Homo sapiens: one gene and its partners. The protein of the gene in region 1 interacts with the protein of each later gene in a pairwise test. Each region holds a gene or a part of one and is shown in the gene's direction. Other genes may lie near its edges. The genes, in order: PDPK1, KATNBL1, ZNF133, ZC3HC1 and XPO7.

What was found.
Region 2: the proteins of PDPK1 (region 1) and KATNBL1 interact in a two-hybrid assay, tested with the Homo sapiens proteins (one large-scale study listed by BioGRID and IntAct).
Region 3: the proteins of PDPK1 (region 1) and ZNF133 interact in a two-hybrid assay, tested with the Homo sapiens proteins (one large-scale study listed by BioGRID and IntAct).
Region 4: the proteins of PDPK1 (region 1) and ZC3HC1 interact in a two-hybrid assay, tested with the Homo sapiens proteins (one large-scale study listed by BioGRID and IntAct).
Region 5: the proteins of PDPK1 (region 1) and XPO7 interact in a two-hybrid assay, tested with the Homo sapiens proteins (one large-scale study listed by BioGRID and IntAct).

The regions. Positions count from the first base shown.
Region 1 is NC_000016.10:2,557,379-2,563,740, forward strand, and holds part of PDPK1 (3-phosphoinositide-dependent protein kinase 1), read left to right. Parts: intron 1-324; coding exon 325-585; intron 586-601; exon of another isoform or gene 602-4,101; coding exon 4,102-4,144; intron 4,145-4,367; exon of another isoform or gene 4,368-4,392; coding exon 4,393-4,530; intron 4,531-6,362. UniProt on the Homo sapiens protein: Serine/threonine kinase which acts as a master kinase, phosphorylating and activating a subgroup of the AGC family of protein kinases.
Region 2 is NC_000015.10:34,149,440-34,155,801, reverse strand, and holds part of KATNBL1 (KATNB1-like protein 1), read left to right. Parts: intron 1-1,117; coding exon 1,118-1,158; intron 1,159-2,732; coding exon 2,733-3,012; intron 3,013-6,362.
Region 3 is NC_000020.11:18,307,702-18,314,063, forward strand, and holds part of ZNF133 (zinc finger protein 133), read left to right. Parts: intron 1-2,467; exon of another isoform or gene 2,468-2,577; coding exon of another isoform or gene 2,578-2,605; intron 2,606-3,659; exon of another isoform or gene 3,660-6,262; intron 6,263-6,362. UniProt on the Homo sapiens protein: May be involved in transcriptional regulation as a repressor.
Region 4 is NC_000007.14:130,019,313-130,025,674, reverse strand, and holds part of ZC3HC1 (zinc finger C3HC-type protein 1), read left to right. Parts: intron 1-1,168; coding exon 1,169-1,412; intron 1,413-1,951; coding exon 1,952-2,164; intron 2,165-3,149; coding exon 3,150-3,356; intron 3,357-6,362. UniProt on the Homo sapiens protein: Required for proper positioning of a substantial amount of TPR at the nuclear basket (NB) through interaction with TPR.
Region 5 is NC_000008.11:21,980,415-21,986,776, forward strand, and holds part of XPO7 (exportin-7), read left to right. Parts: intron 1-1,316; coding exon 1,317-1,463; intron 1,464-2,225; coding exon 2,226-2,398; intron 2,399-4,231; coding exon 4,232-4,425; intron 4,426-5,171; coding exon 5,172-5,277; intron 5,278-6,362.

The DNA.
Region 1 (6,362 bases):
TCCATCCCCCCCACAATTAAAGATGTGCCGTGCTATCTCTGCTCAGGTTACCTTGGCCTTGGGATGAGTTGGCTGGAGGCTCAGGCAGCGCGAGGGACAGGAGGAGGGCGAGGCGCTGCCTGGTGGATTAGCGGGGAGCCATGGCACGGGCAGGACTCAGGAGAGGAGGCCGGCAGCTCACAGCAGACCGCGGGGCTCAGCTGGCCTGCCCTGTGCTTGGGGTTTGTTTTTGAGCGTTGAAATGAGGTCCTTAAACCTTAGTCCGTGCATTGAGAGCAAGGCAGCTGCCTTGAGCCTTACTTCCTTTTCCTCTTTGTCGCCTAGTATGACGCCGTGCCCATCCAGTCCAGCGTGGTGTTATGTTCCTGCCCATCCCCATCAATGGTGAGGACCCAGACTGAGTCCAGCACGCCCCCTGGCATTCCTGGTGGCAGCAGGCAGGGCCCCGCCATGGACGGCACTGCAGCCGAGCCTCGGCCCGGCGCCGGCTCCCTGCAGCATGCCCAGCCTCCGCCGCAGCCTCGGAAGAAGCGGCCTGAGGACTTCAAGTTTGGGAAAATCCTTGGGGAAGGCTCTTTTTCCACGGTGAGTATTTGCTGCTGCTGTGTGTCAAACGTACGTGATTTCCTTGGGGAGGCTCACCTTCCTCGGGGCTTGCCGGAGACTCCAAGCAAGGCTGGTGTCCTTCCAGGCAGGAGGTCTCAGGCCCCTTGAGGGGTGTCACCTGTTGTGAAGGCCACTTGAGTCTTTGGGGGCTGGGTACCCCCCAAGCAGATGACGTGATGAGTGTGGCTAAATATTTAACCTGGTTTTGTAGATGAGAACGTTAGACACATCTCTTGATGGTCTGCGGAGGTTTTTTCTGATGTAGTTAATTTCATTTTAACCTGGCATCAGCAAGTTACATTCTGTGTCCTTGTGTCTCACTGGCAGGGCCCTGGGAAGCTGTTCTTTTTCTTAGATTGAAAGTTAGTATCTCTCCAGGGTTTTTGGGGACATTTATTGACCTCTTCTTATTTCTCTGTTTTGTTTTTTTGAATACATAAAACAGTACGCTCTGGACATTTGCTGGAGACACAGCCTCCAGAGTCTTGTGTTCCGAGTTTCACAAACAGGAGTATTGTCGCAGTACTGTCAAGTCACACTTGTTACCTGTCTTCGGGGTGTTTTTTCCTCTGAAAGCAAAGAAATGAAGGTCGAAAGCAGCTGACATGGGACGTTTTGCTGACGTGGGACCCATGAAGCCGTGTGTGGTTGTGGATTTAGTGAAGGTTGTAACAGGTTCAGGGGAGGCCTGAGCAACTCGGGGTGTACTGTCTCCATCTGGGCCTCTAAAGAGACAGAGTCCCGTGCCGCCACTGTGGTCGCCAAGGTGGCCGCCGTGTGCGTGCTAGGGCCATTCCAGGGAGCCCTGGGGGCACCTCACTCTGGAGGGCCTGGGTGAGTTCCTGAATAATTCTTTCTTGCCTGACCTTTGTGAAGAAACCGTAGGTGAGGTTTATTTTCCTTTTTTCTCTTTTTTACACATAGGAAATATTTCACAATGCAAAGAAAAACATGAAATATAGCTTACCCATATTCCCAACATATTGTTTTAATTAATGTTAACTTTTGCTGCCCTTACACTTTAGATTTTTTAAATTGCAGGTTTTATGAAATAATTTTTTTATAAAAGGATTATGCCCTCATGAAAAATGCCTTCAACCATGAGACTAGTCCCCAAAGTTTTGGGGACTCAGATCCTTTCAGAAAGAAGAAACTCTTTGGAAAACCTTGGGCATTCTGCATGGCTGCTTACAACCACCCAGTGAAAGAACAGGCCTCCTCTTTTCTCAGCTTTACCTGTTTTTTGAGACAGAGTCTTGCTCTGTCACCCAGGCTTGAGTGCAGTGGCATGATCATAGCTCACTGCAGCCTCGACTTCCTGGGCTCAAGTGATCCTCTTACCTCAGCCTCCCAAGTAGCTGCAGTTACAGGAATGCACCACCGTGCCCAGCTAATTGTAAAATTTTTTGTAGAGACAGGGTCTCACTTTGTTGCCCAGACTGGTCTTGAACTCCTAGGCTCGAGTGATTCTCTCCTCAGCCTTGCAAAGTGTTGGGATTACAGGCGTGAGCCACTGTGCTTGGCCTCAGTTTTACTTCCTTGTATGTCTCTTTTTAATTTAACTTTATTTTATTATGTATGTATTTATCCTTTTAGAAACAGAGTCTTGCTCTGTCACCTAGGCTGGAGTGCAGCGGTGTGATCATAGCTCACTGCAGCCTTCACCACCTGGGCTTAAGCGATCCTCCTGCCTTAGCCTCCTGAGTAGCTGGGACCACAGGCATGTGCCACCATACATGGCCCTTAACATTTATCTTGACTGAAAAAGGAAGACTCATCTGTGAAATTGCCTGTTTCCCTGGGTTCTGGAGATGGGTGGAGAGCAGGCACTGTCCCTCCAGGGGCTGTGGTCCGTGTCTTTCTGAACCTGCACCAGGGAGGTGCCCGGGAGAGCACGGTGAGCCGGAGGCTCCTCCATGGGGCTGTTTGGAATCCACAGTACTGGGTCTCAGATTACATGTGTTACCCTCAGTTCTTTCTCAGCTTTCCTGAAATGGAGATCACATAAAAGTTGATTTCCAGGGGAGGGGGAAAGGACAGTGATAGGAGGCTGGGCAAGAGCCAGCTGCAGCACCGGAGAGCCGGGAGGCCCCCTGAGGACGGTCACAACCTCCAGGGAGGGACACGTCACGCGCCATTCTCTGGAAGAGGATCCTTCCTTCTTGTAGGAAACCTGCTTGTGAAGTGTTGAGTTTAGACAACGGAAAGATCACATCAGTATCCCCTTAGAAAGGGTTCCACTAAATATCGGTGCTCGTTCACAATTCTTTCTTCCTCTTTTCTACTTATGAAGCTAGCACGTGCTCTTGTGGAGAAACGTGACCTCACAGAAACACATGAGCTAGAGAGGGGAGCCCTGCCCGGCCCACTTCCCCTTTCTCCCTGGCAGCTGAGAGCCATCCATGCGTGGCGTATTCCTCTGGGAAGACCTTGAGTATGTAGAGTCCCCAGAATCCAACTTCATTCTTCTTGAGTGCCACAAGGCGTCTCACATGGTGCTTTCCAGGATCTCTTCTGACGTGTCCCATCAGGAGTCCTGCCCCGATTGCGGCTCACAGCCCGGGGCCAGGTGGACCTGGCCCTGTGGCCTCCTGAAGGTCTTCCTGCCAGCCCCCAGGAATGTCACGGGACAGGTTTCCTCTGCTCCCTGCTCCTCAGGCCGTCCCCCTGTGGGTGTCTTAGGAGACACTTGTGTCCCACTTGGTGGTGGTGGGGCCTCCCTGGCACAGCTGCCTCATGCTCTCTGGCTAAACCGTGGGCCCACCAGGAATCTCCAGTCTGGTGCCTCAGGGTGTGCCCCAGGCTAGTCCGAGTGGAGGGTCTCTCCCCTGTTTGGGATGCCTGCCCTGCTGGAGTGCTCTGTCTCGGAGGTGGGGTTTGAGTGCAGGGCTCAGGGGTGCTGAGAGGACAGGGCAGGAGGCCTGCTGCATCCCGGGCAGGTGGCTCCCTCTTGTGGGCACGCAGGGCCATGCATTGCTGGTTTAGCTCCCTCTGTCCTTTACAGCCAGGCTCTCTTCATGGTGCCCACAAGCAACATCATACAAAATGTATGATAACAGTTATTTCCAAAAACGAAACTTCAGGGCAGCCTTTGCAATGAATGTATACTAGAAGGACATATTGTTGTCACAGAAGCCCCTGTGCCCTGCCACTTGTGGTGGCGCCACTGTCTTCCTTCTGTTGGTGAAGGGCGTGGCAGTCGAAGAGGTTCCTGAGTTTGTACTTGTGTTGCACCGTTAGGGCTGTTAGCAGCTGATCCAGAAGCTTCTGGAAACAACAGAGAGATGGATATGTTTTCTCTTAGCTGTTAGAACACATCAACACGAGCATTGGCTTTTAGCTCTACTTGTCAGTACAAGACCCAAAATATTTCACTGTAGACTCAAGCCTTCAGTGGGGACAGGAAGCGTGCGTGTGGGGCAGAGGGACTCGTCAGGCCCAGTGTCCTGGTTATTACATTGTGTGTTTCTTTTTCTCCTTTTCTTTCCCAACCAGGTTGTCCTGGCTCGAGAACTGGCAACCTCCAGAGAATATGCGAGTGAGTATGGGCTGCAGGGAGCTGTGCGTCCGGGAGCAGGGCAAGCGGCTCCGTGCAGGGCGGCTGGGGTGGCAGGGCCGGTGTTTCTGTGCTGATTTCAGGGTACAGGACACTGTTGGCTTTAGAGACCACCAGGCTGTTGTGTACAATGTTTGAAAGACTTTAATTTGTACCAGTTACCTTTGTGAGTCATGTCTTTAGTGTTTTTTGTTGTTTCTGATAGTAACTCACTTCTCTCTCACCTGAAGTTAAAATTCTGGAGAAGCGACATATCATAAAAGAGAACAAGGTCCCCTATGTAACCAGAGAGCGGGATGTCATGTCGCGCCTGGATCACCCCTTCTTTGTTAAGCTTTACTTCACATTTCAGGACGACGAGAAGCTGTGTATCCTTTGCGTGGTTGGTGCCGTCTGAAGCCACACCAGTCACCCCTCTCACTTGGAATCAGACCCTGTGTGTTCCCACAAGCAGCCCCCGCTCCCTGCCGAGTGGGGTCCCTCAGGCCGCTGACATTCAGGGAGGCAGCCGAGGCAGCGCCAGGGTGTGGCTGGGAGTCTGCACAGGACGTTACCTCCCGGAGAAGCCACCGATGTGGCTCCAGCACAGTCCTCTCTGCTGCGGCTTGCTTGGTCGGCGTCCCTTGCTCCCCTAGAGCGCCATCTTTTCTGTTATTAAACCTTGGCTCAGGAATCTGGGAGGCAAGGCCCGGTGGAAGTTGGGGTGGGCCCCACCTCTGCCCCATCCAGCTGACCTGTGGGCCTGCCAGTGGCTGGGCTGGCCACGCCACACCGTCGTCACCCCCAGCAGGTGCAGTCTGCATCTGCTCTTCTCCTCCCCCGCCACCCTCCAAGCTGGCCCAAGTGTCGTGGCCTCCCCATCCTGCCTGGGGAGGGGCCTGAGTCCTCCCACCTGTCCTCCCCGTCTCTCCCCAGCACCCGGCTCTTCTGTGTTAGAGCTTCGTTCTGGCCTGCTCCCACTCTCAGCACCATCCTGCAGCTCCTTCGGCTGCCGGCGGAGTGTGTGTGCTCTCTCTGTTTGGAGGTGCTTGCCAAGTGCAGGTTGATGGGTGATGGGGATGCGCTGCTATGCCGGGTGGCGTCTCTGCCCACGAGAAGCTTCGATTTTGGTGGAGGAGCTGGACGTGCACTGACGATCCGTGTCAGAGGCTTCCCGGCAGCAAGATGCGCTGCCAAGAGTCTTAGGGCTGGGTAGGGGCTGGCGGCAGTGTGGGGCTCTTTCAGCTCCTGGGCAGGAGTGTGTGGGGGGGCATGAAAGGCTGTGGTGGGCTGGGCCCCTGAGCCGTGGCAGCCTGGCACTGACTCTGGACTTCCTTCTCTTTGTGGCGGGGAACGTGGGGTTTGCTGTGGCTTCTCCTAGGCCAGGCGGGAGAACGGGCAGGAGAGCAGGGGCAGGGGCCGTGGTCGAGGTCTGATGAACAGACCGGTCAAGAGAATGGAGTCAGGGGCGGCTCCTGGGAGGTGGCCCTCAAGCCTAGTGCACAGCGGTGTCTGCTGCTGAGCTGGGAGAGACCGGGGCGGGTGCTGGGCTGGCATTTCATGCATCCGCTGGTGCCACCATTCAGGTCTGAGTGGGCACTTAGGTGCTGCCAGCAGAGCTCCAGGAGGAGTCAGGGCCGTGAGGACTTTCACAGCGAGCTGGCAGGCTGCCCAGAGGTTGGCTCCTCTGTGAGTGGAGCCTGGGTTCCCCCCAGTGCAGGGGTGAACACGAGGAGGGGCCCACCGAGGAGAGGAGATGGTGATGGGATGTTGCTCCCGAGCTCGAATGATGGAGACCCAGAGGCCACGGGATCAAACGATTTCTGATGGAGGGTGCTGGCTGCCCACGCAGGGGTTATGAAGCGGTCAGGTGCACACAGCCTGACCCGTGGATCTGCCCTGTGCCAGTTGTTGATGGTGGGTAGGCAGTTTCTTGGGGGGACTGTTCAAGGAAGAGTAAGAGGTGAGGAAATGGAAACGACGCAAGGTGCTTCCCTGGGATTTTGCCTAGGGAGGAGCGGGGCAGTGGCCGAGCAGCTGCCAGGCACGTGGCCCGGAGCGGGCTTTGCTGTTGGTTTGTGGAAGGTTGTAGAGAATGCTGGCCTCCAGGCAGGCCTGCTGTCCTCCAGTGTCATCCCTGTTCCTGCCTCTGTCTCCCACTCTCAGTGGCTTCTTCACGGTATGTTCTGTCTCTCACCTTCACGTTCCCCGGGGCCCTGCA
Region 2 (6,362 bases), on another chromosome or scaffold:
TCCACCTATTACAACCAACAGCGGTTTATTAACTATACTAGAGATGCTGTTAAAGGAATAGCTGAGCAATTAGGGCTTACTAGCCAGATGGCTTGGGAAAATAGAATGGCCTTAGACATGATTTTAGCAGAAAAAGGGGAAGTTTGCATCATGATTAAAACTCAGTGTTGTACCTTCATCCCAAACAATACCGCCCCTGATGAAAGTATAACAAAGGCATTGCAAGGTCTAACTGCTCTGTCCAATGAGTTAGCAAAAAACTCAGGAGTAAATGACCCCTTCACAGGGTGGCTAGAAAAATGGTTTGGTAAATGGAAAGGGATCACAGCCACCATCCTTACTTCTCTTGCAATTGTAGCAGTAGTGCTTATCCTTGTTGGATGCTGCATCATACCTCGCATCCGTGGGCTAGTCCAAAGACATACAGAAACAGCCCTTACTAAAACTTCTCTCAGTTCCCCTCCACCATATTCTGACAAGCTCTTTCTTTTAGAAAACCAAGCAGAACAGCTATGCCAAGACATGTTAAAGAAATTTGAAGAGGAAGACCTGTAAAATTCAAAAGGGGGATATTGTTAAGTACAGTGAGTTCTGAGTTCCTCTGGGAACCAGTATGTCAGTATGTTCAGCTTTCTTATACTTTGTTCTCCATTTTAAAGTTTAACTTCCTCATTCTTTACACCTCCTTGCCCTAGTTTCAGTAAACAACCCCCTTCTAGCCTTTATACTCACATATTTAGAGTCCTTAGTCATCCTTAGTCACCTGCTCTGTCCTTAGTCATCCTTAGTCACCTGCACTGTAACCATCCTTCCTGCCTAAACTGCTCACCCCGCCACTCTGCCTCATACCCAGATAGCCTATCAGAATTAGTTTAGACTGTGCGGTCCAACCCTAGCCAATAGGGGAATGACACAGTAGTAGGGACTAGCTGCATTAGGGATAAGAACCCCTTCTCCTCCCATGCCCGGTATGCTCTTGCGACCACTCCAGGCACGATTGGCACCCTTCTGCAGAAGTAAATTGCCTTGCTGAGAAAGCTTTTTGCCGGAGTGCTGATTCTTCTTTGCGGCACCAAGCATTTGTTTCTAACATCAACTATCTACTTTCATTTTTCAGGTTAAGAAATCTCCAAAACAGTTGGCTGCTTACATAAATAGGTAAGAGTTTCTTTAAAGTTTGTGGGGAACAACAAATATGAAAGCTGGGTAAGGATGACAATAAGGGAAAAATAAGCATTCTTTTATCATAATAATAATTAACTTATTGTCAAACAGCTTCTTTATGCCAGTATCTGCACTAATAAACACATCAATATTGTCTCTGCTCCTTACAACAGTCCTACTCTATAGCCTACTCTATAGATAACATTAACCCTAACAGTTGATGAGAAAACTTAAGATCAGATAAGTTAAATGATTTGTTCAGAATCATATAGCTAGAAAAGTGGTAAGAATGACATTCATTCTCAGATCTGCCTAACTTCTAAAGGCACTTTCTACAAAACGACTGGTTTTCAAAGTGTGATTTGAGGACCTGCGGGTCCCTAAAGACCATTCATGGAATTTGTGAAGTCAGAATTACTTCCATAGCAATACTAAGACATTGACTGTCTTCATTTTCATTCTCTTGTTTGAGGGTACAATATAATTTTTCAAGAAGCTATATGCCATTTGATATCACAGTAGATTGAATGGAGAAGCAGAAATGAGAACCCAGCTGTCTTTTGTTAAACCAGATATTAGAGATATATAAAAATGTAAAACAGTACCATTCTTCTCACTTTTTAAAAAATTATTTTAGAAAATATGGGTTTTGGGTAAGATATTCCATGTTAATATGTAATTAGTCTTTTTTTGAATGAATTAACAAATGATTTAAATTTTGTTTTAGTTTTTACACAGTAAATATCAATAGATACTATTCACATAAAAATTATTTTGGCCATGGCTCACACCTGTATTCCCAGCACTTTAGGAGGCCAAGGTGGGTGGATCATGAGGTCAAGAGATCAAGATCATCCTTGCCAACAGGGTGAAACCCTGTCTCTACTAAAAATACAAAAGTTAGTTCAGCATGGTGGCGCGCGACTGTAGTCCCAGCTACTCAGGAGGCTGAGGCAAGAGAATCACTTGAACCTGGGAGGTGGAGGTTGCAGTGAGCTGAGATTGTGCCACTGCACACTAGCCTGGCAACAGAGAGAGACTGCATCTCAAAAAAAAAAAAAATTTTTGAGTCATTAATTATTTTTAAGAGAGCAAAGCATCGTGACACTAAAACGTTTGAGAACCACTGTATTAAACGATGAGGCTTGCTCTATCGTGTTCTTACTCAAATAAATCAATATACTTCAGCTTAATTAAATTTTAAAATATTCACACTTGCAGTCTTATTTGCCACTTTGTTAGAAAAAGATCAGGTTTCTAGAAAATGTTGTGGTCTTCTTACTCCCAGAATGGCCTTTAATATTTCATTTTTAAAAGCATTCTGGTTATTATGTCTGTCTTCATTTTTATTTGGCATAAAATGTCATCCTTTACATTGTCTTCCAGATAATTTGTAATTTCCCTTTTACTTTTCTCTTCAACTCAGAATTAAGATTTTTAAAATTCTATTTATTTCTAATTTTAGTGGATTACAATCACCAAATATAGCCTATTAATTCTCTGTTTAAAAACTTTTAAAGGATTTCATATGGTTCTTTTTCATTTAAGAAAATAAATTCTTTTTACAGAACAGTTGGACAAACTGTGAAAAGCCCAGATAAACTTCGTAAAGTGATCTATCGCAGAAAGAAAGTTCATCATCCCTTTCCAAATCCTTGTTACAGAAAAAAACAGTCCCCTGGAAGTGGGGGCTGTGACATGGCAAATAAAGAAAATGAACTGGCTTGTGCAGGCCACCTGCCTGAAAAATTACACCATGATAGTCGAACATATTTGGTTAACTCCAGTGATTCTGGTTCTTCACAGACAGAAAGCCCATCATCAAAATATAGTGGGTTTTTTTCTGAGGTAAGTCTTTTCTCTAACTCATATCTAGTTTAACTTTGTTCCTGTTATAATCTTGATTTTTTTCTTTGCCATATTCCACTAGCAGAATAATTTGTCACCTATTGAATGTAGACTTATTTGAGTCATAGTAACTCCCTGAGACAATTTTCTAGATTAACCAAATTTGAATTAATAATTTATTCCATTTCTCTAAGATGGGATGAAATGCTTAGCAGGCTGCTAAAACTATCCAGAATGACAAGTTAGCCAGTAGAGATTTAAAGGAAGGGAAAAGGAGAAATCTTGCCTAAAAAAGTGGAGCACTAGGCCGGACACAGTGGCTCACGCCTGGAGCCCGAGGTGGGTGGATCACGAGGTTAGGCGTTTGAGACCAGCCTGGCCAACATGGTGAAACCCTGCCTCTACTAAAAATACAAAAATTAGCCGGGCATGGTGGGGGGCGCCTGTAATCCCAGCTACTCAGAAGGAGGCTGAGACAGGAGAATCGCTTGAACCCGGGAGGCAGAAGTTGCAGTGAGTTGAGATCACACCATTGCACTCCAGCCTGGGCAACAGAGCGACTCCGTCTCAAAAAAATAAAAATAAAAAGGACAACATCTGCAGGCAGATCACCTGAGGTCGGGAGTTCGAGGCCAGCCTGGGCAACATGGTGAAACACCCTGTCTCTACAAAAGTACAAAAATGAGCCGGGCATGATGGTGGGTGCCTGTAATCCCAGCTGCTTGGGAGGCTGAGGCAGAAGAATCACTTGAACCTGGGAGGCAGAGGTTGCAGTGAGCCGCGATCATTCCATTGCACTCCAGCCTGGGCAAGAGAGCAAGACTCCATCTCAAAAAAAAAAAAAAAAGTGGACCACCGAAGCCAGTTATCCAGACACATTTTGCCGGGCTCTCAATATTGCCTGGTTAAAGCATAGTTCAGGCAAACCTGCTGTGGTTTGCTGCTCTTCTGGCTCAAGCAAAACTGGTTAACAGACTCAAAAGCGTTTTTGAGAGTGATAGAAATATTCTAAAACTGGGCCTGGCCAACATGGCGAAACCTCATCTCTACTAGAAATACAAAAATTAGCTAGGCATGGTGGCACACTTTGGGAGGCCAAGGCAGGTGGTCAGGAGTTCAAGACTCGCCTGGCCAACATGGCAAAACCCCATCTTTACCAAAAATACAAAAATTACCCAGGCGTGGTGGTGCACGCCTGTAATGCCAGCTACTTGGGAGGCTGACGCTCAAGAATTGCTTGAACCCGGGAGGCAAAGGTTGCAGTGAGCCAAGATCTTGTCACTGCACTCCAGCCTGGGTTACAGAGTGAGATTCTGTCTCAAAAAAAAAAAAAAAAAAAAAAAAAAAAAAAAAGTAGGCAAAGGACACAATAGACACTTTTCAAAAGAAGACATACATGTAGGTGACAAGCATATGAAAAAATGCTCAGCCTAAATGCTAAACCTAAAATCACTCATCATTAGAGAAATGCAAATCAAAACCACAACAGGATATCATCTCATACCAGTTAGAATGGCTATTATTAAAAAGTCAAAAAATAATAGATTCTGGCAAGGTTGTGGAAAAAGAACACTTATACAATGCTGGTGACAATGTAATTTAGTTTCAGCCATTGTGAAAGCAGTGCGACAATTTTTCAAAGAACTTAAAACAATCTTATTATTGGATATATACCCAAAGGAATATAAAACATGCTACCATAAAGACACATGTATGCGTATGTTCATCACAGCACTGTTCACAATAGCAAAGACAAGGAATCAATCGAAATGCCCATCAATGGTAAACTGGATAAAGAAAATATGGTGCATATACACCATGGAATACTATATGCAGCCATAAAAAGAACAAGATCATGTCATTTGCAATCACGAGTGAACCTGGAGGCCATTATCCTAAGCGAACTAATACAGGAACAGAAAACCAAATGCTTCATGTTCTCAGTTGGAGTGGGAGCTAAACACTGTGCTAGTGCATATGGACACAAAGATGGGAACAACAGACATGAGGCCTACCTTAGGGTAGAGGGTGAGAAGAGAGTTAGGATCAAAAAACTACTTATCAGTTACTATGCTTATTACCTGTGTGATGAAATAATCTGTACACCAAACCCCCACAACATGCAAACTACCTATATAACAAACCTGCACATGTGCCCCTGAACATAAAATAAGTTTGTTTTGTTTTGTGTTTTGAAACAGGGTCTCTCGCTCTATCACCCAGGCTGGGGTGCAGTGGTGCAATCTTGGCTCACTGCAACCTTCACCTCCCAGGTTCAAGCAATCCTCCCACCTCAGTCTCCAGAGTAACTGGGACTACAGGCATGTGCCACCACACCCAGCTGATTTTTGTATTTCCTATAGCGACAGGGTTTTGCCATGCTCCCCAGGTTGGTCTCGAACTACTGAGCTGAAGCGATCAACCTGCCTCAGCCCCAGCCCAAAGTGCTGGGATTACAGGTGTGAGCCACTGTGCCTGGCCAGAATAAAAGTTCTTTTTAAAAAGTTTCAGTTGTGCATTTTAAAAACTACCCCAGTGAGACATCTTTCTCAAGAACCTCTTTTTACTTTACATTCTCATTTTCACTACTTTTCACTAAACCTTACATTTAACTAATAGGTTTAATGATTATTCTTGTTTCATACCTGTTTTCTTGATTGACCAGTACCTGCTCTAAAAACCTAAATCTGAAAGTGATACCATAACATCTTAGCCAAGTTAAAATACATATAACCATTGACCTAGCTGTTCCAATTGTAAAATTAATTTTAACAAAAGTGTCTGTACAAGTGCACATATTTACATATATCAGGATGTCCACTCATCAGTTTTGATAGGTAAAAACCAGAATCTAAATAAATTATGGTATGTAAAGACTAGAGAATATGCTATTGTTTTTTGTTGTTGTTTTTAAGAGATGAGGTCTCACTGTCTCACTGTCTTTCCCAGGCTGGACTCAAACTCCTGAGCTCAAGTGGTTCTCCCACCTCAGGTTCCCAAGTAGCTGGGACTGTAGGCACACAGCACTATGCCAGGCTATGCTGTTGTTCTTTAAAAGTAAAGTTGGGCTTGGTGTGGCGGCTCATGCCTGTAATCCCAGCACTTGGGAGGCCAAGGCAGGCGGATCATGTGAGGTCAGGAGTTGGAGACCAGCTTGGCCAACATGGCAAAACCCCATCTCTACTAAAAATAGGAAAATTAGTTGGGTGTTGTGTTGGGTGCCTGTAATCCCAGCTACTCGGGGAGGGTGAGGCAGGAGAATTACTTGAGCTTGGGAGGCGGAGGTTGCAGTGAGCTGAGATTGCACCACTGCACTCCAGCCTAGGCAACAGAGCAAGACCCTGTCTCCA
Region 3 (6,362 bases), on another chromosome or scaffold:
TCTCTCTGTTCTTTAGACTGGATGATTTCTGTTGGTCTGTCTTCAAGTTTACTGTCTCATTTGTCATTTCCAATGTGCTAAGCTCTGGCCAGTGAATCCTTCATTTCACTTATTTTTCAGTTCTGCAATTTCCATTCACTTTTACTACACTTTTCTTTGTGGTGAGATTTCCTATCTGTTCACTAATTATAATTAAATTTTACTTTATCTTCTTTAAATCAGACACTAAGTGGATAACTTATTAAGTGAAAAAGTTATAGGATTTTGTATACTATGCAGTTGAGTTTGTTGTTAAACAAAGAGAAGTGTATGAAAGAGTATATATCCATATGTTTATGTGAACATAGAAGTCTGTTGTTATTTACCATTACTAGTGGTTACCTCTGTGGGGATAGAATTGGGGAGGGTTGGACAAGGGGCTGCTGAGAATTTTTCATCCTACTTTGCATTATTTTTAAATGACAGACACATAGATAACTTTAAGAAATTATATATGTGCTTTAATTTTTAAAATTCTTTTGACAGTTTTATAAATGTTTGCACAGAAGTATATATTTTCTTTTTCTGGGTAAGAAATTTTCTCCTCTTGTTTTTATTAAATTGATTAATTCTGTCTTCAAATTGAGGGACCATAGCATACATAATATAAATTGTCGCTGTTTTTCAACTTGCTTGTATCCTTACTGTTCATCTGTTAGAAGGAATCCTAAAGCTCTCCACAGTCGTAATTTATATCAACTTCTCCATTTATTTCTAAGTTTTTGTGTTATATTTCACTTTATTGTTCTATTAGGTATAGAAAGGTTCAGGATATTTTTATCTTACTCATTAATGAAGTTTTTAATGCTGAAATTCTCTTAGTTCCATGAGCTATTGTTTCCTTTAACTTCCTCTTTATTTCTTTTTAGTCTTAGCACTGTACTTTCTGGTGCATCTTTTTGGTATTTTATTGTTCATCCTTTTATTTTAAAATAAAAACATTGTCATTTGGGTGTTTTGCTTTTAAGCAGCAGCATGTAGCTGGTGTTGCATTTGCTGTCAAACCAAGTGGTGTTAACTTTTAATAGTGACTTTACTTAATAACAGATAAATTTCATGAGACTTGCTCAGGGGTTGACTGAGGCAGATGAGTAGGTGTTTTACTACAGCAATAGGAAAGAAGGAAGGTCAGGGCAAAGGAAGTAAAGCATCTGTATTAGTCACCTTGGGCCGCCATGACAAAATACTGTGGACTAGCTGGCTTAAACAACAGAAATTCATTTAGTTATAGTTCTGGAAGCCAGAAGTTCAAGATCAAGTTGTCAGCAGGTTTGGTTGCTCTGAGTCCTCACTCCTGAACTTACAGATGGCCACCTTCCCCCTGTGTCTTCACATGGCCCTTTCTCAATGCTCACACATCTTTGTCGTCTCTTCCTCTTCTTAAAAGGACACCAGCCCCATTGGATTAGGGCCCACCCTTACGACCTTATTTAACCTTAATTACCTCTTTAAAGGCCCTGTCTCCAAATACAGTCACATTAGGGATTACAGCTTCAACATAAGAATTTGGGGGAAACACAACTCAGTCCATAACAGCATCCTTGTGAGAGCACCATAGTGATTTCATAGACTCTCCGCCGAATATATAGTTCCATAAAAGGTCAGTTGGATATGTAAGTCCATTGGATCTCAGTTGTATGAAGGAGTAAAGATGAGGGACTGGTGTATAAGCTGAAAGGTCATGGATTGGAGCCCCAAATAAGGTCAGGAACCAATGTGCCCATGGTGCTTGAGCAAAGTGAGTCAGAAGGTAGAAGAAAAGGCTGTGTCAGAGAAGGGAATGTGCACAGGAGAGAATGTGAAGATTGTGCAGTGTCTGTGAACAGCATTCACAGTGCAGGTGAGGTCAGTGTTGCTGAGAAGTTGGAGTCTTAGCCAGAGGCTCAGCCCTGTGGAGCACCCTGAGAGTGCTGACAGGTATTGGTGTGGAGAGGATGTGAGGCTGGTAGGTGATCAAATATTCAGGGCAGTGTGTGAAACCAGGAGACCTGTGGATGGTCCTAAAAAAAGTATGGTAGGTAATGGTGTGGAAGCCACATTACAAAACAAGGACATTCATCCCACTGTGTAATGCTTGAGATATGAAAGGAAGAAGCTGTCTATCTACTTGAGGGAATCTTACAAAAATCTTCCTCTCAAGGAACAAGAGAGGTGTCTAGCCAAGGACATGGAAGGAATGTTGGACAGAGAAGGAGAGGATGTAGGGGCATTATCTGACCTGTGTGTTCATTCTAGAATTGGCAGGTGGAGGCTGGGAAAATGCTATACACCCTGACCTTTGTACATTTACACAAATATGTGTTTTCTCAACCTGAAAAGTATAGAATTATCAAAACATTTATATTAATAACAAGCAGCTTACCTATCATTGTCTTAAAGCGAAACCTATCTTTTTTGTCTCGTTTTTAATCCTTGTTTTAATTTAAAGAAAAACAGCAGCTCTTACAATGATGTTGAGCACATTAAAAAGAATGCTGTACAATCCAAGGAGCAAGTCATTGTGGTTGCCCAGGAAGCTGTCTTGGAAACCCAAAATATATGTGTAACGGGAGGAAGACTGTTCTAGGTATAAAATACATCTTAACGGTTTCATTATTCTATATTTGGGACTTGGATTTAAGACAGGCAATATCAGAATCCTCAAAATAGGCTAGTTACAAGAAAAGTATTTAATTTTCTCGGCTGTTTCATTAATCAGAATGCTAATTCAATAAATGTAACGGAATCATTTGCAACAACATGGATGAACCTGGAGGATGTTATGTTAAGTGAAATGAGCCAGTCACAGAAAGACAAATACCACACAATCTTACTTATATGTGCAGTCTAAAAAGGTTGGACTCATAGAGAAAGAGAATACAATGGTGGTTACTAGGGGATGGGGGTGGTTGGGGAAGATGTTGGTCAAAGGATTTTCACATAGAAAGAATAAGTTCAAGAGATCTATTGTATAACATGATGACTACAGTTAATAACAATATATTGTATTCTTGAAAATCACTAAGAGTAGATTTTGGGTGTTCTCATCACAAAAAATGATAGGTATGTGAGGTGATGCAATATGTTAATTAGCTCAATTTAGCCATGTCACAATGTATATATATTTCAAAATGTACACAATGAATATATACATTTTTTGTCAATTTAAAAATTAATTAGTTTTTTAAAAGTAACAGGAGTTACCATAATTATGAAGAATTATATGCCCTCCTGAAGTGACTAATCCTTGTTATTTATATTGACTAAGAAGCCTGGTAAGAGGTAACACAGAAGCCTAAGAATGAGAACTAAAGCCAGGTGCTGTGGCTTGCACCTGTATTCCTAGCTACTCAGGAGGCTGAGACCAAGGCAGGAGGATCACTTGAGGCCAGGAGTTCAAGACCAGCCTGGGCAACATAGCGAGACTCTGTCTCTAAAAAAATTTTTATAATTAGCCAGGGTGAGGTGTTGTGTGCCTGTAGTCCCAGCTACTTAGGAAGCTGAGGAGGGAGGATTGCTCGAGCCCAGGAATTTGGGCTACGTGATCTATGATTGTACCACTGCACTTCAGCCTGGGCCACAGAGTGAGATCCTATCTGTAAGAAATTTAAAAAATAAAGAATGAGAAATTGGATATCTGGTGAGGTAAAAATAGAGCTTTTATTTCTAAGTTGAGTATACAAAAGACAAAAATTAGTTATTTTTCATATGGAGGACAGAAATACACCAAGTTATAATTCTTTTTTAGTTACCAGTATTATTGTCAAGTTTAAGCTTTTTTCTGTTTATTGGCAAGCTAAATAATTGTACATGTTTTTAAGCATATATAGTGTTGATGGACGGTATTTAAAGTTTTAAGTTTCAGTCTCAAATAATTAACATAAGGCTGATCTCATTAGTTTAGGCAAAAATACAAGTAAAATTATTGCATGAGAACACTTTGTATAGTTTTGTTTTTGAATTTTTTAACAAAAATATTTATTCTTATAATGATTTCCTAACAGAGATCTTAGAAATTGAAAAACAACTTAATCAGTCTTAAGTTAAAAACTGCCTGAAAAATATGCCATTTCTGGTATTTACTTTGAGTAAAGTAATTGTAGATTCACGTAATTTCTGGCACTGTCTGTAAATTATAAGATACTAGTTGGACACATATATCTACATGTGCCTAATCTTACATATTTATGAAGGCAATATTAGCCTATCTGATTTTTAAAATCAGTATAGGTTGACTCTCCCTTATCCAAAATGCTTAGGACCATAAGTGTTTCAGATTTTGGGTTTGTTTGGTTGGTTGGTTGGTTGGTTTGCATTTTGGAATATTACCATAAACATAATGAGATATCTTGGGTATAGGACCCTAGTCTAAACAGGAATTTCATTTATGTTTTGTGTACACCTTGTACACTTGGCCTGAAGGTAATTATATTTTTCCTTTGAGGATGCTGAATAAACTGAATTTTATGTGCCTGTGTTTTGACTATGACCTGTCACATGAGATCAGCTGTGGAATTTTCTACTTGTGGCTGCATGTTGGTGCTTAAAGATTTTCAGATTTTGGAACTTTGCAGATTAGGGATGCTGAACCTATATATTAGTCTTGGAAGTTTAGATTAGTTAAACTTTCTTTGAGAAAGCCTACATATCAGAACCAAGTTTTATATCACTAGAATATTATGCTAATGTTATGTTTACACTGATAAAATAAGGGAAAAGACATTGCATTTGTCTTATTTGCAGGCTTTATCTTACTTTGAAATATTGATTCCACCCTTTAGTTACATACCAGCTAGTAAGGTTGTTTACATATTGTAGTAAATAAGCTCTGAGTGCCTCACATTTCTTTCTTATCGTGCAACCTAATAAGCAAGGTGCCTGGCTTAATTCACAGCTAAACTTTTTTCTTCAGAGCCAGAGCTTCAGCTGCAGCAAGAAAGATTTCCTTCAGAAACTGGCATATTTGAATCATTAGGAGTTCAATTTTCAATTTTATTTATTTTTTATTTTTTTGAGACAGAATCTTGCTCTGTTGCCCAGGCAGGAATGCAGTGGCGCAATCTCGGCTCACTGCAACCTCCGCCACGCAGGTTCAAGCACCTGCCTCAGCGTCCTGGGTAGCTGAAATTATAGGTGCACACCACCACAACCAGCTAATTTTTATATTTTTAGAAGAGACAGGGTTTCACCATGTTGGCCAGGCTGGTCTCAAATTCCTGACCTCAAGTGATCCACTCGACTCAGCCTCCCAAAGTGCTGGTACAGGCGTGAGCCGCTACACCTGGCCTGATTTTTTTTTTTTAATTTAGTTATTCTCGAGTTTTTAAATTTTAAATTTGTGTCAGTGCCCATTAGTCTCTATAAACCTATCAGTGCAGGAGCACCTTAGATTTAAAATATTTTATAAATAAATTCATTAACCTGGTAATATTTTGTGTTAAAATTTCTTCTAAGACTAAATATTCCTAGTGTATACACAGAATGCCAAATTTGGTGACCAACTGAAAAAACTGACTAATGGAGAATTAAAGTTTTGTTTTTCTTCTGTCACTCCATACAAATGTTAAAACCATGTTGAATTAAGATTTCTCTGAAGGCGCTTCTATAATTCTGAAATACATTTAGTGTAAATAAAAGCCTGCCACTTTACACATAGGCACAGCAGCTAGGGCTGTAATAAGCCTACATATCAGAAGCCTTGGTTCTTATAAGGGTGGGTGGGAGGTATTACCTGTGTCAAAATTATAGTCACTGTGCTTAACTCAGGACAGACACAGGAGTTCCTTTTACTGCTGAAAGACCTACTTACCCATGACTATGCCCTAATATGTATGAAGGTAAGCCAAGGAGATATGAGCTGTTGCTTCCCTTCTCCTGTCGTATTCAAGAGAAACAAAATAGCCAATAAATCAAATCTGACAACTCCACCCAACTCAAGTTTCCATAATGTCAAGGAAGTTGCTGGCCAGAAATAGAACACAAAATCAGTTATGAGTTGTGGAACCTCAGACAACCTAGATTAAACCAAATAAACTTAGTGAGAACTCAGTGAAAGCAGGTAGGATTTACTGCTGAAAAAGGGTCTTGAGGGACCACCCGGCACCTGTCCTGAATACAAGGGCTGGAAGAGCAGGCTTTCTCTGCAGGAGCTCCTCAGCACTGGCGTGGGGAGAGGCAGGCATCAGGTTAGATTGTTGGTTCCTCTGTCTGTCATCAAAGCCTGAGGTAAAGGCCACCAGAGCTACTGAAAGGAGAAAAGTTGAGCTTATTTACTGGCCAGGCAGTGAAACACAGAAGGGAAGACATTCACTTGGGCAGTTTGCTGAGTAGGAAGAGTCAGGAAT
Region 4 (6,362 bases), on another chromosome or scaffold:
GGATGGTCTTGATCTCCTGACCTCGTGTTCTGCCTGCCTCGGCCTCCCAAAGTGCTGGGATTACAGGCGTGAGCCACCACACCAGGCTGAATTTGTGTTCTATAAACAGTGAACCTCCTTTCTAAAAATGGAAAGAAAATAAGCTCTTTTCTATTTTTAAGAAGGAAAAATAGAAAGGAAGTTCTTTTCTATTTTTAGAAAGGAAGAAAAATCCGCTTAATTGATAAAAACTACCATAGGAAACACCAGCTGGAGTCTTCTAGGCCCCCATGTTGCTATTTCCATTCCAGCTGCTCAATTTGGCATAGACTCCCACTATCCTTAATCTACCAAAGAGAGCATATTTAAAATACATCAAGATTGGTTCTGACAGTAAATAAATCTTGATGTATTTTAAATATGCTCTCTTTGGTAGATTAAGGAATGTTTTTTGTTTAAAGGGAAAAGACTTTAAGAGGGACAAGAGAGGGTGGGTACGGTGGCTCACACTTATTTAATCCCAGCACTTTGGGAGGCCAAGGCGGGTGGATCACCTGAGGTCAGGAATTCGAGACCAGCCTGGCCAACATGGTGAAACCCCATCTCTACCAAAAGTACAAAAATTAGCCGGGCATGGTGGCGGGTGCCTGTAATCCCAGCTACTCAGGAGGCTGAGGCAGGGGAATCACTTGAACCTGGGAGGCGGAGGTTGCAGTGAGCTGAGATCGCACCATTGCACTCCAGCCCGGGCAACAAGAGCAAAACTCTGACTCAAAAAAAAAAAAAAAAAAAAAAAAAAAAGAGGGACAGGAGAAACTTTTTGTGTTGTTGTTGTTGTTGGTCAGGCTGGTCTCGAACTCCTGACCTCAGGTGATCCACCCACCTTGGCCTCCCAAAGTGCTGGGATTACAGGCATGAGCCACTGCACCCGGCCGAGAAACTTTTAAAACATGCCTGCAAAACAGTCTTACCATAGAGAGCACACTAAGAACCCGAGGTCTTTCTATGGGAAATATGTGAGAGATGATGAAGTATGAAGCTGGGTCCTGAGACTGGAGCACAGAGGCTCTGATAGGACATGGTGACTGTTCCAGAAATTGGATGAGATAAGGCATACTCACAAGACATTGCACTTAGTCATTTGGAAATGTTACACTTTGAGAAAACTCTCTTTTTCATTCCTATCTAGTTCCTCTTTGGAATCCATGCAGCTCTCCCTGATAACATGTTCGCAATGTATGAGGAAGGTGGGGCTCTGGGGCTTCCAGCAGATTGAATCGTCCATGACTGACCTGGATGCATCCTTTGGCCTGACCAGCTCCCCAATCCCAGGCCTTGAGGGGCGACCAGAGCGCTTACCTCTGGTGCCTGAATCTCCTCGGAGGATGATGACCCGGAGCCAGGATGCCACTTTCTCCCCAGGCTCAGAGCAGGTATTCACTTAGCTTATTTGGGGTGGAATTTTAAACAACATTCTTGGCAAAAGTGTTGTTGGTAGAAAGTTGGAAATTAATTTAGGTGGATAGGCTTCTCTTCCCACTACATTGGTTACGATACCACATAGTGTTTCTGTTCACTAATGGGGAAGCTAAATTCAGCCAGACCCGGTGGCTCACGCCTATGATCCCAGCACTTTGGGAGACTGAGGCAGGCAGATCACTTGAGGTTAGGAGTTTGAGACCAGCCTGGCCAACATGGTGAAACCCCGTCTCTACCAAAAATGCAAAAATTAGCCAGGTGTGGTGGCAGGCACCTGTAATCCCAGCTACTTGGGAGGCTGAAGCAGGAGAATCACTTGAACTCGGGAGGCAGAGGTTGCCATGAGCCAAGATCGCCTCACTGCTCTCCAGCCTTGGCAACAAAGCGAGACTCTGTCTCAAAAAAAAAAAGAAAAAAGATTAAAGAAAGAAGTATTTCTGACCATAATCATTAATATCATTCGTGTACTTCCATTATCTCCCCTTTCCTTCAGGCTGAAAAGAGCCCTGGTCCCATTGTCTCTCGAACTCGGAGCTGGGACTCTTCCAGTCCTGTTGACCGTCCTGAGCCAGAGGCTGCTAGCCCCACCACCAGAACTCGCCCAGTGACCCGAAGCATGGGAACAGGAGACACCCCTGGCCTGGAGGTACCATCTAGCCCTCTGCGGAAAGCCAAGCGAGCTCGCCTCTGCTCCTCCAGCAGTTCGGTGAGTCCACCTCGCATGTAGCAGTGGCTGAGCATAAACAGCATATTGGGCCCTCCCTAGGCAGCATGGAGAAGCAGGCAGGAGCCCTTCCGTGGTCCAATGCAAAAAGTAGACCATGTGAATAAATTTAAAGTTGGATGACCAAAGGGAAAAAATGTCAGTCATGTTTTTTGCTCCTTTTTGTTCCTTTGGAGTGGATTCTGGAGAAATAATAGATATTTCAGGCAAATGGAACAACGGTGTGATACAGGGACAAACCTGATCTGGCAGCGGTCCCCAACCTTTTTGGCACCAGGGACCGTTTTCATGGAAGACCATTTTTCCACGGACCACGGTTGGGAGGATGGTTTCGGGATGATACGAGCACATTACATGTATTGTGTACTTTATTTCTATTATTATTATATTGTAATATATAATGAAATAATTGTACAACTCACCATAATATAGAGTCAGTGGGAACCTGCAGCTTGTTTTCCTGCAACTAGATGATCTCATCTGGGGGTGACGGGAAACAGTGACAGATCATGAGGTGTCAGACTCTCATAAGGAGCCCGAAGTCTAGATCCCTCTCATGTGCAGTTCACAGTAGGGTTCCTGCTCCTATAAGAATCTAATGCCACTGCTGATCTGACAGGAGGCAGAGCTCAGGTGGTAATGCAAACAATGGGGAGCAGCTGTAAATTCAGATGAAGCTTTGCTTGCCCGCCTGCTGTTCACCTCCTACTGTGCGACCTGGTACCCATCCATGGCCTGGGGGTTGGGTATCCCTTATCCCTTGTGATAAGGTATAGTTTGTTTAACACAAAAGGAGTGAAAAAATAAAGAAAATGAGAGGAAAATGTGTAGGCAAAGTTTGAAGGAGAGCATAAACACTCGAAGTATGGGTAGTTGTGAGATTCTGGACTTGATAACTAACAGCAGTGCCTCCCTGAACTTACATAGCATCTACCTATGAATGCTATTTCTTTTTCTCCTTCCTCAGGACACATCTTCCCGAAGCTTCTTTGATCCCACCTCTCAGCATAGAGACTGGTGCCCTTGGGTGAATATCACACTTGGCAAAGAAAGCAGGGAGAATGGTGGAACTGAACCAGATGCCAGCGCCCCAGCAGAGCCAGGCTGGAAAGCAGTGCTGACCATCCTCTTGGCGCACAAACAGTCTAGCCAGCCAGCTGAAACGGACTCCATGGTGAGATACGCCACTGCCTTGTGTGTGGGCAGCACTTGCTGTTTATGGGAGGTGGAGCAGAGGCTGGGCCTATAATTAGCACCCCGCCTGCCTTCAGCTTTCATACGTCAAGTTATTTGGGTTTTTTTGTTTGTTTGTTTGTTTTTTGAGATGGAGTCTCGTTCTTGTTGCCTAGGCTGGAGTCCAATGGCACGATCTCAGCTCACTGCAACCTCCGCCTCCTGGGTCAAGCGATTCTCCTGCCTTAGCTTCCCAAGTAGCTAGGATTACAGGCGCCCACCACCACACCCGGCTAATTTTGTATTTTTAATAGACAGGGTTTCACCATGTTGGCCAGGCTGGTCTCGAACTCCTGACCTCAGGTGATCCCCCCGCCTCGGCCTCCCAAAGTGCTGGGATTACAGGCGTGAGCCACCGTGCCCGGCTTATACGTCAAGTTAGACTCATTCTGCTTTCGTCCTAGGGATTAGGCATAGAACCGGTTCGTCTTTCTGTAGTTTAGCATATGGCATTCCGTCAAGTTCTGATAAATTCTTTTGTTCTCCTAAATAAAGTGACTCCAAGTAGAAAAGGAGTACGGAAACAGAAATAGATGAACAGGCAGCTGCTCCGGCCTCATGTTGCAGACAGCTGCTTTTTCTTTCATTTGCTGTCACTTGCACTTGGAGCCTGGCCAGTTAACTTAGCTGTTTGGAGCACTGGGCTCTGACACCAAGATGATGGCCTCATTCCGCACGCTGGGCACATTACTTTACTCTGTTCCACAGCCCAGACTGTGACTCTGCTAGCCATTGCAGCCATAACTGCTGTGGGTTACAAATGTGGGTGACAACTGAGAAGAAAAGTCAAGTGTTTGCTCTGTGTAAAGATTGGAAGTGATAGGCTGGGTAATATGGAACCATGAAAACTGGGTTCTCTCCTTCGCTGGCTCACTCCCAAATTTTCCTTGTAGCTGGTAACAATTTCTGATCGTAGTCTATAACTTTCAAGGACAAAGTAAAATAATACTTGTCAGCAGATATTTATGAGCAGCACTCCTAGATTCATGGTTTTCTAGGGTTACAGGATTCCACTGGAGGGAACTATAGTAATGCTAAAAGTCCAAAATTGCATGGCTGGGTGTGGTGGCTCACGCCTGTAATCCTAGCACTTTGGGAGGCCAAGGCGAATGGATCACCTGAGGTCAAGAGTTTGAGACAACCTAGCCAACATGGTGAAACCTCGTCTCTACTCAAAATACAAAAAAAAAAAAAATTTGCCATGTGTGGTGGCAGGCGCCTGTAATCCCAGCTATTGGGGAGGCTGAGGCTGGAGAATCACTTGAACCCAGGAGGCGGAGGTTGCAGTGAGCCGAGGTTGCGCTCCAGCCTGGGCTTCAGAGAGAGACGCTGTCTCAAAAAAAAATAAAATAAAAATAAATGTATATTAGTACCCTTAGTAAATATGCAGGTGAAGGTTTTCCAAGTTTTCACAGAAAAAAAAATCCGCATTTCTCTGCCTAGATCTTCAGGAACTAGTACATTGGCAGTTTTCAGTAAGACTCCTCTCTGTCACTGCCATACGAAAAAGAAAGCCTATGGGTTTTGTTTTTGTTTTGTAGTGGGAAAAGTTGGCCTCATAATTGGCCCTGGATTCCAGGACTTTTTTTTTCGGTAGTGTGTCTTAACCTTCTGACAGCTGCTGTGACGAAGCTAGAAAGCTTAATGAGACTGTGTGGTAAAGGATCCTGATGTTCGAAAAAAAAAAGTATATACCGAGGCCAGGCACAGTGGCTCATGCCTGTGATCCCAGCACTTTGGGACGCTGACGCAGGGGAATCACCTGAGGTCAGGAGTTCGAGACCAGCGTGGCCAACATGGCAAAACCCCATCTCTACTGAAAATACAAAAATTAGCCAGGACTGTTGGTGTGCACCTGTAATCCCAGTACTCCAGAGGCTGAGGCAGGAGAATTGGGAGGTGGAGGTTGCAGTGAGCCGAGATCGCACTACTACACTCCAGCGTGGGCAACAGAGTGAGACTCCCTTTCAAAAAAAAAAAAAAAAGAAAAAAGTGTATACTATTTTTTCAACTCAGGTTTCTTTCAACTTTGTCACTCTATTAACTAAATTTCCCTCAGTCATTAGTAAGAGTTCAAACTTTTTCCTCCTGGAACTTATTGAAACATCCTCAAAGAGGATAGATTTTTAAAAAACTGTGAAAGTGGGCCGGGCGCAGTGGCTCACGCCTGTAATCCCAGCACTTTGGGAGGCCGAGGCAGGCAGATCATGAGGTCAGGAGATCAAGACCATCCTGGCCAACATGGTGAAACTCCATCTCTACTAAAAATACAAAAATTAGCTGGGCGTGGTGGCATATGCCTGTAATCCCAGCTACTCAGGAGGCTGAGGCAGGAGAATCGCTTGAACCAGGGAGTCAAGAGGTTGCAGTGAGCTGAAATGGCACCACAGCACTCCAGCCTGGCGACAGAGCGAGACCTGTCTCAAAAAAAAAAAAAAAAAAAAAAAAAACCTGTGAAAGCGTCATATGAGAAACTGGAGGTAACTGTGGATCATCTTGCTAGACATTCTTTGTACTCTCACTGAGACCCTTTCTGCGTGGAATACTTGCTCTTCATTGTGACTCTCAAAGGCAGACAGAACCAAGTGTTCTGATTCACCAAGAGCTTTTGTCTCCTAATGAATTACTTTGTCTCCCTTTACCACCATTTCTCAGAATCTCAGAGTACTTCATTGGCATGATCAGATGGCACTGCGATTCTTCCTATTATTAGCACTGCTGGCTAAAACATAAAAGCGGTGAAGACCAAGGCCAGAGCTTAAACTCATAGGGGTCATTCAACTCTGTTTTTATTAGTTGTCCTTGGTTTATACTGTTAACCTCAGCTAGGCATCACATTAAGTATAAGTACTTATTCACAATAAATAATGAACTAGGGCCAATTCAGCATCATGAATGAAAAACCAGTGCAGGCCGGGCGTGGTGGCTCACGCCTGTAATCCCAGCA
Region 5 (6,362 bases), on another chromosome or scaffold:
AAAGAATCACTTCGCTATAAGGAAATAAGGAAGAAGCTAGTCATTTTTCCCCCCAAGAAGTTAAGACTCTAACATCTCCGGGCACAGAGGCTCACGCCTGTAATCCCAACAGTTTGGGAGGCCAAGGTGGGCAGATCACTTGAGGTCAGGAGCTCAAGACCAGCCTGGCCAACATAGTGAAACCCTGTCTCTACTAAAACTACAAAAAAAATTAGCCGGCCATGGTGGCACGTGCCTGTAATCCCAGCTACTCGGGAGGCTGAGGCAGGAGAATCGCTTGAACCCGGGAGGCAGAAGTTGCAGTGAGCCGAGATCATGCCATTGCACTCCAGCTTGGGCGACAGAGTAAGACTCCGTCTCAAAAAAAAAAAAAAAACTAACATTTGGTTTTTGATTTTGTTTACCATTTTTAAAAAATGTTTATCGGTAACCTAAGTATATAGGGCTGCTTTTAGGTGGGAAGGAAGATACTTCTTTCAAACGTTAATTTCATAACTCGATTGCCCTTTTTGTCTTTTGAAGTCCCAGTGATTCAGTATTTTTTTGAAAGTATCACTTCTCTATACTAGAAGAAAATTAAAAAGCAGTTTATTTCAAAATATACTCAGTTTTGTCCCTCTTTTTAAAATTCATTTATTCATTCAACAAATTACATTGAATACCTACTCTGTGCCAGGGATACACGGGTGAACAAAACAAAGTCTTAGCCCACATATGCTAACAGAAGAAGACATATCAGGAAACTTACAATTAAATATACTGGTAGAATAGATTTTAAAATAGCTGTAATATTTGCTATATCATATAAATACTACTATATGAATAAATTACAGTAAGTGATATAAATATATGAAACATTTGTATAACTTTGCTAACTATCGGTTAGTTGTGCTGAATGATCAGTTTGACAGACGTGGAAATGAAAATTTCATTAGATTTCCTTTGATTGGTAACAATAAGAAAACAAGTCAGTCACGTCTTAGGTCGTGCCCACTTCTGCTATAATGAGCTTTACAGCCTCAGTGTGATCCTCCTGGGCTTCTGTTTCAAACTCTGTCCATTGAGGCTAATAATGTCATCTCATGTGATTATTATTGTGAACATATGAGATAATAAATGTGACTGTCCCTTTTCAAAGTGACTTTAAAAAATTGTTTCTGAACATTATGCAGACGTATCATTCTGAATCATGACCTGCAGCCCAGAAGTTAAAAAGTAGATTCTACCCCTTCCCCCATGCCATCTCAAGTATACATCATTCTTGAAGTATGTTAAGGCACATTTTACATTTTATTTTTCTCCTCTGCTACTGCCAGAGTTTATCAGACCCAAACAATTACCATGAGTTTTGCAGACTACTGGCCCGATTGAAGAGTAACTATCAACTGGGAGAATTGGTAAAGGTGGAAAACTACCCTGAGGTCATCCGATTGATAGCCAACTTCACAGTGACCAGCCTACAGGTTTGTCTTTGATTACTTGTGTCTTCCTTCCTAAATACTGGAATCTCTTGCTTGTTGGTTTTAACCATGTAAGAATATATTTTTTTTTCTTGGCAAAGGTAACCATAAGTCCAGTATAGCCCTACAGAGTAGTTACTATTGTGGCCTGTGATTTACATTTACACAAGTGCAAGTAGTGTGGGGAGAGGAACATGTGGGAATTACTAGGATAATATTTAGATTCATCCCAGAGAGAATTAGCTCATAGTCACCCCAAAAAAGCCAAGGTCGGAACAGGGAGCTAGACAGAAGAGTAAAAAGAGAGTTGATGCCCTCTCTTTCTTAGTCATGTAATATAGAACAATGGGTCTCAAATTTTATGGCTTGTATCACAGTCATCTAGGGGACTGATGAAAAAATATAGATTCTTGAGTCTTATCCCCATAATTTCTGGTTCAGTAGGTCCAGGGTAGAGCCTTGGTGTTTCTAACAAGTTCTTCAGGTGATTGTCATGCATACTAATGGTTGAGACCCACTTACATATGGCTTTCCTTATGGTAAGGCTTACACAGCCAGCATAGAGTAGCCCTTCTCATTAGATGCTTAATCTTGAAAATACTAATAAACACATTAAACTAGATGCCATACACAGAACAAAGCCCACAAAAGTCTATCCTCTTTTTTTAAAAAAAAGAAAAAAGTCTTTATCTTCTGTGTCAGTGGCATGGGACTAACACGTACAGAAATGAAAAATATGCCTTCTGCTTTTCTACTTTTCTTTAGCACTGGGAATTTGCTCCAAATAGTGTGCACTATCTTCTGAGCCTGTGGCAGCGGCTGGCAGCCTCTGTGCCGTATGTCAAAGCCACAGAGCCCCACATGCTGGAAACTTACACTCCTGAGGTCACCAAAGCCTACATCACATCCCGGTTGGAATCTGTGCACATCATACTGAGGTAAGGAAACTTAGCCTCATTCATTCCCGCACCAGTGGCCTGTTGTCACACTTCCTAGAGATCAGACACCCCATTGGCAAAGAGGTACTCGAAGCGTGTCTCATTGGAGCCACTACTGTTCATGGTTCTTCTTCCTTGTCAGCAGAGTAGCATGAGAGCATAAAGCCTGATAGAATAGTCTTGTCTCTTGAACATTTATATTCTATTCATATTCCCCCTTTTCACTGTCCATAGCAATATCTTTGAATAGAGTATATCCATATAATGTTTGTCCTTGCCGCTGTTTTTCTTTCAATGTGAGAAACATTTATAAGATATAGATGATAAGAATTATGTGTAACTTATAGGTGCTTAATGTGAACTCCTAAAGAAATAAGTGGATAAAGATTACACAATCTAGTTATCAATTCTAATTCCAGAGCTAGAACACATAAGAATTCTAAGCCACTGATCACTGATTGCTTTACATTCATACATGGTTTCTGTCTACATTGACTTAACTGAACCAAAATCCCGTAGCTAAAGAAATGTCAAGCCCTTTCAAAAATTACCTATATTAAATGAAGTTATAGCCCTGTTTAGGTAGCTTTCTTGTTTTCACTGGCTGTTTGTCAAGAGAATTTACTTGGAGTCTAAGGGTCTGGGGCCTTTTTAAGTTGGATTCTTAATTTGCTTAGCCCCAAGTGCATTGAATAGTCATGAGTTATAGTCTTAACTGTTGATGACTTGAATCAGTTCAAAATCTGAGTATTCATGAAGTTCACCAGCAAGCCTTCTTCTGTCACCTCCATAGCTTCCACTCCTGAGGATTCGGCTGGCTTCAGTGAGGCATTGTTGGGGAGTGGTTACATGTTTGTAGGCTCTGGGGCCGGATAGCCAGTTAGTAGCTCTGTACTCTTGGGCAAGTTGCTCCATTTCTGTATTTGTAAAATTCAAATAATAATAGGCCTGCCTCATAAGGTTCTTACAAGGATTAAATTAATATGACCTGGCACAGTGTGTAGCACATGGTAAGCACACAGCTAGTTTTAGTGCTGCTGCTCCTGCTGCTGCTGCTGCTGCCATTATCATATTGCAGTGTAACAACAGAAGAGCTCCTCATTGGACAAGATGTTAAAATCTAGGAGCTGGCAGATAAGGCAAGACCTAGTACAGGGCCACAATGCCTTGTCTGCAATTCCAAAGTCAAAGATGTGACAAAAGAAATTTCCTCATCAGTTTGGCATTAGAATTCACTTGTTACAAAACCGGACGGGAGTTGGTATGAGACCATTTGTAGTTTTTTTAAAATCCTACTTAGTATGACCATTTATAATATTCATAAGTTTTGCTACAGGAACGTTGAGTTTGATGTGCCACAAAGCCCATCAAGGGTTTTATATGATATGGTAGAAGCATCATACTGCCTTCCTCCAATTTGAACAGTTCTGAATTCCAAGACACACCTGGCCACAATGGCCTCCCACACAGGACTGTGTACTTATCCTACAGTTTACTATAGTCAAGAACAAGCGAAAGACTAAGAGTCAAGAGGTCAGACAGTTGAGAAGGGCAGGACTTTGAGGTTTAAGGCAGAAAAACATTAAGAGTTGAGAATTCAGATTGTAAGATTTGACACCAACAAGCAGAATATACCTAAGGGAGACTGATGCTAGGGCGAAGACATTGGCCTTCTGCCTCATTAAACATTCTTCCTTGGTTAAAAGTAATGTCGGGATGTAGACCTCTACAGTCAGAAATGGTGGCTAAGTGAAGAAGTCAGAGAGCTGCTATATTGGGCAAATCAGTAGTCATATTTTAAGAGAGCTGCCTTCCTTCTTCCCTTGGGAATAGAGATGGCCTGGAAGATCCCCTGGAGGATACGGGGCTGGTCCAGCAGCAGTTGGACCAGCTGTCCACCATTGGGCGTTGTGAATATGAGAAGACGTGTGCACTCCTCGTGCAGTTGTTTGACCAGTCGGCCCAGTCGTACCAGGAGCTGCTACAGAGCGCCAGCGCAAGCCCAATGGACATTGCAGTGCAGGAGGGTGAGTGTGCAGCGTGCTGGGAACTCTAGACCTGTGAGGAGATGTTGTCTAGTACCCCTTCGCTCATTGCCACCTCTTTCCTACCTCCCTGCAAAAGGATTCTTTCATCATCTGTTGTCTCCATATGCACAAGAATCTTTATGAATGAATAAATCCCTCAAGGGACTAGGGAAGAAGAACTGAAATCACATCTGCAGTGGGATTTTGTTTTAAGAGATGAGGTCTCGCTATGTTGCCACGTGGGCCTTGTACTTCTTGGCTCAAGTGATCCTCCTGCCTCAGCCTCCCGAAGTAGCTGGGACTACAGGCATGTGCCACCACACCTGGCTCCTGTCTGCTTTTTAATGCCCCACAGCACAGCTGGGACCAGGCCAAGAGGTTTATGACTGCTAAATCAAGGGCCAGGGGAAACAGGGAGATAAGTACAGATAGTAACCTGGGCTTCCTCTTTTTACCGGGCCTGGCTGGTGTTTGTAACATGGCACTGTGCCCAGCTTGGGTGTTTTTAACTCTAAGGAAATACTACACTAAAAATAATGGCCTTGTCTGATACAGGAACATTGGTTACCTAACGAATTTCCCTCTTAGCATTGCCCTTACCAAAGCAGAGAAGTAGCCATTCTCTGTAAGAAAAGTAAGACTTCATGGTTTCACCACAGTGTTCTTAAGATTAAGGAAGTTCAGAGTGAGGAATGTCTTCAAGAAACTATCACTGGAGGTGACACTGGGTCTGTCTCCTGCTGCAGGAAGGCTGACATGGCTGGTTTACATTATTGGAGCAGTGATCGGTGGCCGGGTTTCTTTTGCCAGCACTGATGAGCAAGACGCCATGGATGGTGAGCTTGTCTGTCGGTAAGTGCTCCCCACAGAAGCTCTCCACTCTGCCTTGCTGGCACTTCTCCACTCCCCGATAGGGTCCTCTCCACTTACAGAACGTAATCTGAACATGCTAACTGCCCATGAGACACAGCTTTCAAGGCTTTTGTAAGTGCCATGATAACTCTGCCTATGATCTTTACTTTAAAATAAAAAACCAGCAATAATTCAGAAAGGAAATAATGGATACGGAATTAGGAAAACTAAAGCAGAGATTCTCTGTTAGGTCTTTTTACGAATAGTATCTCAGAGTTAGTAAAATATGGACTGCTTTTGCCATCCCAAAATAAGTCTAAAAGGAAACTGCAGTTCTTTAAAGTTCACCAGAGATGGAATTACAGAGTTCCTACAGCCTTTCAAATCTCTTGGCCATACATTTCAAGTTATTTTTCATCTGTGCAATTCTCATTTTATCAAAACTTTTTTTTTTTTTTTTTTTGGAGATGGAGTCTCGCTCTGTCACCCAGGCCAGAGTGCAGTGGCGCTATCTTAGCTCACTGCAACCTCTGCCTCCCTGTTCCAGGTTCTCCCGGGTTCAAGCGATTCTCCTGCCTCAGCCTCCCAAGTAGCTATGATTACAGGCATGCGTCACCACATCTGGCTAATTTTTGTATTTTTAGTGAGACGGGGTTTCACCATGTTGGCCAGGCTGGTCTCGAACTCCTGACCTCAGGTGATCCACCTGCCTTGGCCTCCCAAAGTGCTGGGATTACAGGCATGAGCCACCGCGCCCCGCCTTCAATATATATATCTTCTGAAAATCCTCATTTGTCTCTTTCCACCCCCATTTTGTTTATCAGATGCCCATTTGCCCAGAGGTCCCTTAATCCTGACAAAAGTCTCCGTAGCATTTTCCCACTGGCATTTTTTGAAGAGTTGAGCAGAGCTTTAATAAGAATGAAATCTAATGCCTTTCTGATTCTGCAGCCGAGTTCAATACTGTGTGTGTCATAATATAAATTTAGTTCAAACAATGTCTTGCAGATTGGTTCTGAGCTTGAGTGTAGCAACACAATGATGGAGTCTCATTCACTCATGATGTGTCACAAATAGTTAACTAT